Homo sapiens: one gene and its partner. The protein of the gene in region 1 binds, or shares a complex with, the protein of each later gene. Each region holds a gene or a part of one and is shown on either strand. Other genes may lie near its edges.

Region 1 (3,823 bases):
AATTATGACATATCAGTAACTATAAGATGTATCTAGCTGTCAGAGATGTCAAAATTTGCAAAATTACGTATCTTAAAATCAGTAAAATATGGTAGTAGAAGAAAATATTCAAGCTATTCTTCACTAATCAAAACTATACCTTCTGGAAGAATTCAAGGCCAGGACTGTAAAAGCAGATTAAATGAACAAATACTAGGCAATTATTCAGTAATAACTAAGTTTTCATATACTTTTTAACTTGTTTCTACAATGGTACATAAAATTATTTAGGTTAGCACACCCCACCATGCACGACTAATTTTTGTATTTTTCGTAGGGACAGGGTTTCACCTTATTGGTCAGGCTGGTCTTGAACTCCTGACCTCAGGTGATCCACCCGCCTGGCCTCCCAAAATGCTGAGATTATAGGCGTGAACCACTGCACCTGGCCAGGACATACTTTAAATTCTTAAAAATTGTAACCATTTCTCATTTGTCACAAGATCTAAGAGAATGCTATACAGTGTAATGAAGTTCTGAATTTTCTTTCAGATGTTTACAGGTTTTTCTTTTATGCCTTTAATATGTTATTAAAGTTTAAATGTAAAAAGGTGGGGGTTTTTTTGGTGCTACCCATCCCCCTTCTCCAGCCACTAGGAAGAAAGCTGTGTGTGTGTTCCTGGAGTGGCTTACACACAGCTTGTAGCATCCAGGGTGGGCAAAAATAAGCCTGTTTTCCAAATACTGGGTATTTGTGCTCTGATCACTGATTGCTGCTTCTAATCATAGAGGTGAAAAGAGATGGCAGCCATTGTTGTTATAGCTCCCCTCATTGCAAAAATGGGTAAAGGCATTTAATAGACACTTCTTCAAAGATATTAAAATGGCCAATAAGCACATCAAAAGATGCTCAGCATCACTAATCATTAGGGAAATGCAAATCAAATCTATAACACGATACCACCTCATGCCTCTTAGGATGACAATTATCAAAGAAACAAAACAACAACTGTGGGCGAGAATGTGGAGAAATGGGAACCCTTTTGCAGTGTTGGTGGGAATGTAAAATTGTACAATCGTTGTGGAAAATGGTGTGGTGTTTCCTCAAATAGTTAAAAATATAATGATCATATGATCTGGCAATTTCACTTCTGGGTATATACTCAAAAGGACTGAAAGCAGGGTCTCAGAGATACTTGTATATCCATGTTTTTAGCAGCATTATTCACAATAACTGAGATGTGGAAGCAACCAAAGTGTCCATCAGTAGATGAATGGATAAGCAAAATGTGGCATATACATACAGTGGATATCATTCAGTCTTAAAAAGGAAGGACATTCTGGCACATGCTGCAGTGTAGATGAACCTTGAGGACATTATGCTGTGTGAAACAAACCAATCACAAGAAAACAAACACTGTGTGATTCCACTTATCTGAGATACTTAGGGTAGTGAAAATCACAGATACAGAACGTAGAATGGTGGTTGTCAGCACTTGGCGGGGAGGGTGGAATTGGGAGTTGTTTAACGGATATAGAGTTTCGGTTTTGCCCTGTGAAAAGTGTTCTGAAAGTGGATGGTGGTGGTGATTGTACCATATAAATGTACTTAATACCACTGAACTATACTGTTAAAAATTGTTCAGATAGTAAATGTTATGTATATTTTACCACAATAATAATTTTGGGGGAAAACTATTGAGGCCATTCATAAATACTGTGTTTGTATATGTCCTGGCAACAAATTTATTCCATTCCATACAAATGTCTCATTATGTGTTGTGCTGTGATTTAGCTGGCTATATTAGTTTGCTAATGATGCTGTAACACAAACTGGATGGCTTAAACAACAGAAATGTATTCTAGTTCTAGAGGCTGGAAATCTGAAATCCAGGTGTTGATAGGATTGGTTCCTTTTGAAGGCTGTGAGGGAGAGAGTATTTTATGCCTCTCCCCTAGCTTCTGTTAGCCACAGGCCTTCCTTGGCTTGTAGATGACGTTCTCCCTGTGTCTTCATGCATCTTCCCTCTCTACACGTCTGTCTCTGTGTCCAAGTTTCCCCTTTGTGTAAGGACACCAGTCATATTGGATTAGTGTTCAACTTAATGACCTCATGATCACTGTTTGCACATAAGGTCACATTCACAAGTACTGGGACTTCCAACATCTTTTGGGAGGATACGATGAAATCTGTAACACTGGCCGATAATTTTATAAACATTTATGTTATTTCCAGTTTTTCTGTGTTTAAGTTAGCCTTGTGGGGCATATTCTTGTATATATATCCTTTGTGTTTTTGTGATTAGAAGTAGATTTGCGAGGTCAGAGGATACACACAATTTTGCTGTACATTATGAAAGTAACCTCCAGAAAGTATATGCCCATTTATAGTCCCACTGTCAATGTACAAGTACGCACCCGTTTTCGACACAGTAAATAACACATTGGTTTTTAAAATCTTTTGAGTCTTTGTCAGTCTTTTTTATTGTTTTTGTTTGTTTGAGATAGGGTTTCACCCTGTCACCCAGGCTGGAGTGCAATGGCACAGTAATGGCTCACTGCAGCCACTACCTCCCAGGCACAAGTGATCCTCCCACCTCAACCTCCCAAGTAGCTGGGACCACAGGCACGTGCCATCACACCCAGCTAATTTTTTTATTTTTATTTTTTTGTAAAAATGAGGTCTCACTATGTTGCCCAGACTTCTGTTTGTTTATTGCAGTAAAAACAGTGAAAATTTACCATCTTAACCAGTTCCAAGTGTACAGTTCAGTGGTGTTAAGTATGTTCACGTATTTGAATATAGATTCACAGATGGCCAGAACTCTTCTCAGCTTGCAGATCTGAAACTCTATCCCTATTAAATAACTCTCCATTCTCCCCTCCCCACAGCTCTAGGCAGTCACCATTCTACTTTCTGTGTCTATGAATTTGACTACTCTAAATACTTCATATATGTAGAACCATACAGTATTTGTCTTTTTGGGACTGGCTTATTTCACTTAGCATAAGTGTCCTCAAGGGTTATCCACATTGCAGTATGTGATAGGATTTCCTTTATTTTTAAGACTGAATAATATTCTATTGTATGTGTTTATGCTACATTTTGTATTTATTAGAGAGGATTTGGAAAGATTAGAAAAAGATAAGAATGTAGGAGAGGTACTTTGGAACCAAAAGCTTGGGGGTTTCATTCTCTCCATCTCAGATAGTGCTTTTTTTGAGACCCAGTTTCATTCTTGTTGCCCGGGCTGGAGTGCAATGGTGCAGTCTTGGCTCACTGCAGCCTCCGCCTCTCGGGTTCAAAGATTCTCCTGCCTCACCCTCCCGAGTAGCTGGGATTACAGGCATGTGCCACCACACCCAGCTAATTTTGTATTTTTAGTAGAGACGGGGTTTCACCCTGTCAGCCAAACTGGTCTCGAACTCCTGACCTCAGGTGATCCACCCGCCTCGGCCTCCCAAAGTGCTGGAATTACAGGCGTGAGCCACCGCACCCAGCCTCAGATAGTGCTTATGCCTACTATAGCTGAGCTTATTTGTTTTGTTTATTTTCTGAGTTTTCTATTAATATTACGTCTCTGTTCCTCAGAATGGTTTTCCTTTGCCTTCCCAGCAATACCTTCCAACTGTTAGACTGGTCTTCTTGTGAAAGACTGTCTTCTAGGATTTCCGGGGATTGATGTATCTTTTCAAGGTGGAAATAGAACAGTCGCCTTGAAAGAATTTCCGTTAGGGAACCCGGATAGTTGGCATTTTGCATGTTTTGTTATTTTGTTGTGCAGTAGGTGCTCTCTGTGTTTGTGGAGTATACCACATAGTTTTGTTACCACTCTAGTGCATC
Region 2 (3,823 bases), on another chromosome or scaffold:
CTGTAGTCCCAACTACTTGGGAGGCTGAGGCAGGAGAATGGCATGAACCCAGGAGGCGGAGCTTGCAGTAAGCCGAAATTGTGCCACTGCACTCCACAGCCTGGGTGACAAAGTGAGACTCCATCTCAAAAAAAAAAAACAAAACAAAACAAGGAGGAGTGTGTGAAGGAAACTTTTTGGCCCATGCCTAGCTATGGCTCTTATCTCTTCTGATCACTTTCCCCTGGAGAGAACTTGTCACATGACCATACCCGCCTGCAAGAGAGCCTGGGAAGTACAACTGGACAGGCATTGCCTAGCTGCCGTGGAGGAAAGAAGAGTATGGCATTCGGACAGCTAGCATCTCCGCCACAGCAGGCCTAGCACACTGCCTGGTGCGTTGCAGACGCTTCACAAACCTTAGCTGTTCATTACCATCATTGAGTGTTAATCATTTCTCTTCTGTGTTCCTTTTTCTTCACATCAGTACGAAAATAAAAGGGATTTCTAGAATGATCAAAGCAATTTGGGATTGGTATGGGAAGGCTTCCCACGGTAGGTGGGATGGGAAAGATAAAAGGATATTTCTGGTGTTTGAAGACTGTCAGTGTAGGTCAGAAAGGAGCAGGAAAGTGGAACAGCTATTTTTCCTTCCACTCATTTTTGTGGTCTTCTAGGAAAATATTATTTCCCCTATGGAGGATTCTCCTATTCCTGACATGTCTGGGAAAGAATCAGGGGCTGACGGGGCAAGCACCTCCCCTCGCAATCAGAACAAGCCCTTCAGGTGAGTGGTGTCCTATCCACAACCCACAGTCTGGCCCCCGCTTCTGTTGGCTTCTCTCCATCTCAACCTGGGGAAGTCCTCATCAGTAAGAGGCTGGGGGCAGTTAGGTGAAGCCTAATAGCAGTCTCAAGTGTGAGTGATGACCCAGCGTGTCTGCATGCACAGACTGAGTGCAGGGTTGTTCAGCACAGAACTGTTCATACCATAAATAACCCAAATGTCCTGCTGAAGGGGAATGGTTGGCTAAATTGGCATAACTCCATATGATGAAATAACTTGGGGCTATTAATCATATAGCTGCAAGTATAGAGAAATATAGTTAAATGACATGAAAAGATGTAAATTATAGAGTGACAAGTGGAGAAAATATTAGTTGTAGCCCAGTATGGATGGTATAATACTATTTTTACTTAAAATATATTTCTTTTTTTCTTTTTCTTTTTTTTTTTTTGAGATGGAGTCTCGCTCTTGTCGTTTAGGTTGGAGCGCAATGGCGCAATCTTGGCTCACTGCAACCTCCGCCTCCCAGGTTCAAGCGATTCTCCTGCCTCAGCCACCAAGTAGCTGTGATTACAGGCGCCTGCCACCATGTATGGCTCATTTTTGTATTTTTAGTAGAGACGGGGTTTCACCATCTTGGCCGGGCTGGTCTTGAACTCCTGACCTCAGGTGATCCTCCCACCTCGGCCTTCCAAAGTGCTGGGATTACAGGTGTGAGCCACCATGCCTGGCTTACTTACAATATATTTAAATATGTGCACATAAGGGAAAAAACCTGGACTAATATGTAGCAAAAGATTAGGAATAATATATAACAAAATCTGGAATATATATAATAATATATAACAAAATAATAGTAATTCTCTCTGGGTTGTTGGCATTATGGGTTTTTCCATATTTTTTGAATAGTAGATACATACGTTGCTTGTTTTAAAAACCAGACCAGATGTGTCTGTCCCTCCCTTTGTATCTGGATAGATACAGAGGGGGTGCCCAAAGGGAAAGGCAGGTTTTCACTGACCTTGGGAAGCCCTGGGAACCTCCAAGGTGGGCCCTTCTCCAAGCTGGCTCTTGAGTCTGACGGGCCTGCCTCCCGCTGCAGTGTGCCGCATACTAAGTCCCTGGAGAGCCGCATCAAGGAGGAGCTAATTGCCCAGGGCCTTTTGGAGTCTGAGGACCGCCCCGCAGAGGACTCCGAGGATGAGGTCCTTGCTGAGCTTCGCAAACGGCAGGCTGAGCTGAAGGCACTTAGTGCCCACAACCGCACCAAGAAGCACGACCTGCTGAGGTGAGCGTTAGCAGGATGCACAGTCCCGGGGGTGGCCTTGGAGGCTGTGGCCACGGCTAGTCACCTTTCAGGGGTTTTACAACAGGCTTTCCAATCCTGGCTGGCCTCTAAATCACCTGGAGAGCCTCGAAAAAAACAGCAGTGGCCAGTCCACCGGGTATGTCCCAAACAAATTCTGATTCCACAGAGTGGGGCTCAGGCATCTGTGACTGACCGATTGATTTGATTTGTTTTTGTTTTGTTTTTTTTTGAGAGGGAGTCTCGCACTGTCACCCAGGCTGGAGTGCAGTGGCATGATCTCGGCTCACTGCAAGCTCCGCCTCCCAGGTTCATGCCATTCTCCTGCCTCAGCCTCCTGAGTAGCTGATACTACAGGCACCCACCACCACGCCCAGCTAATTTTTTTGTATTTTTAGTAGAGACGGGGTTTCACCGTGTTAGCCAGGATGGTCTCGATCTCCTGACCTCGTGATCCACCCGCCTCGGCCTCCCAAAGTGCCGGGATTACAGGCGTGAGCCACTGCGCCTGGCCTAGTTTGGTTTTTTAATTATGGTAAAGGCATAATATAAAATGTATCTCCATGGGAGGCTGAGGCAGGAGAATCAGTTGAACCTGGGAGGCGGAGGTTGCAGTGAGCTGAGACTGCACCATTGCATTCCAGCCTGGGCAACAAGAGTGAAACTGCATCTCAAAAAAAAAAAGAAAAAAAATTTACGCTTCTTAACCATTTTTAAGTGTACAGTTTAGTAGTGTTACCCATATTCACATTGTTGTGTGATTTATTTTTTGTCTTTTCATGCTTCTTTTCTTTTTATCCCCAAAGTTTTGTTATTAAAAATTTGATACACACAGAAAATCTGAAAGAATCATACAATAAACATCAGTATATTCTCCACCTAGACTAATTAACTGTTAACATTTTGTTGGAGATCTGTGATTTTTATTTGCTCATCACAAGAAATTGACCAGTGTTTTAGGACATGTTCTTTTGGGAATCCATCACAGTGCCTGCCATTCATTTGATGTCAACTCCCATCCATCTTGTTCTGCATTGATCACGAGGGTATAGGTGACATCTTGAGGAAGACTGTGGAATAGCTACCCTTTAGGTAAAGAGATAGGGAAGCAACCCGAACAAGTCTCTTTGCTTCTCACAGACAAGTGCTGTGTCTTAACTTCATAGAGCCCTGACAGGACAGGGCACATTCATTCATTTGGCCTTTTTTTTTTTTTTTTGAGACGGTGTCTCACTCTGTTGCCCAGGCTGGAGTGCAGTGCCATGATCTCGGCTCACTGCAACCTCCGCCTCCCGGGTTCAGGCAGTTCTCCTGCCTCAGCCTCCTGAGTAGTTGGGATTACAGGCATGCACTACCATGCCAGGCTAATCATTTGGCCATTCTTACTGTCTCTTAGATATTGTGCTGGGGGCCAGCAAGAGAGGCAGAGCAAGGGACTTGCAGATTACTAGCAGATGATCAGTAAAGATAAGTGCCATTAAAAGGAGAGGTAGTTGCTGACAAGCTGCCAGGGTATTTAAGGATAAGAGTGACTAATGTATGCTGAGGGCCTACTGTGTGTCAGGGGCTTTATGTACACTCTCTCAAGTGTCTTGACAACAACCCAGGAGGGAGGAGCTATTTTCGTTGTTTACCAGATGAGGAAATAAAGGCCCAGTGAAGCGAAATGCTCTGCTGAAGGTCACACAGTCAATAAACAGCAAGCTGAGACTTGAACCTGTGGTTGAATCAAAGCCTCTTTCTATAATAGT

The links.
Region 2: KAT14 (region 1) and TADA3 share a complex: the UniProt entries of both Homo sapiens proteins name them as parts of the ADA2A-containing complex.

What each region holds. Positions count from the first base shown.
Region 1 is NC_000020.11:18,154,754-18,158,576, forward strand, and holds part of KAT14 (cysteine-rich protein 2-binding protein), read left to right. Parts: intron 1-3,823. UniProt on the Homo sapiens protein: Component of the ATAC complex, a complex with histone acetyltransferase activity on histones H3 and H4. May function as a scaffold for the ATAC complex to promote ATAC complex stability. Has also weak histone acetyltransferase activity toward histone H4.
Region 2 is NC_000003.12:9,782,259-9,786,081, reverse strand, and holds part of TADA3 (transcriptional adapter 3), read left to right. Parts: intron 1-656; coding exon 657-766; intron 767-1,868; coding exon 1,869-2,054; coding exon of another isoform or gene 2,055-2,058; exon of another isoform or gene 2,059-2,956; intron 2,957-2,973; exon of another isoform or gene 2,974-3,070; coding exon of another isoform or gene 3,071-3,101; exon of another isoform or gene 3,102-3,823. UniProt on the Homo sapiens protein: Functions as a component of the PCAF complex. The PCAF complex is capable of efficiently acetylating histones in a nucleosomal context. The PCAF complex could be considered as the human version of the yeast SAGA complex.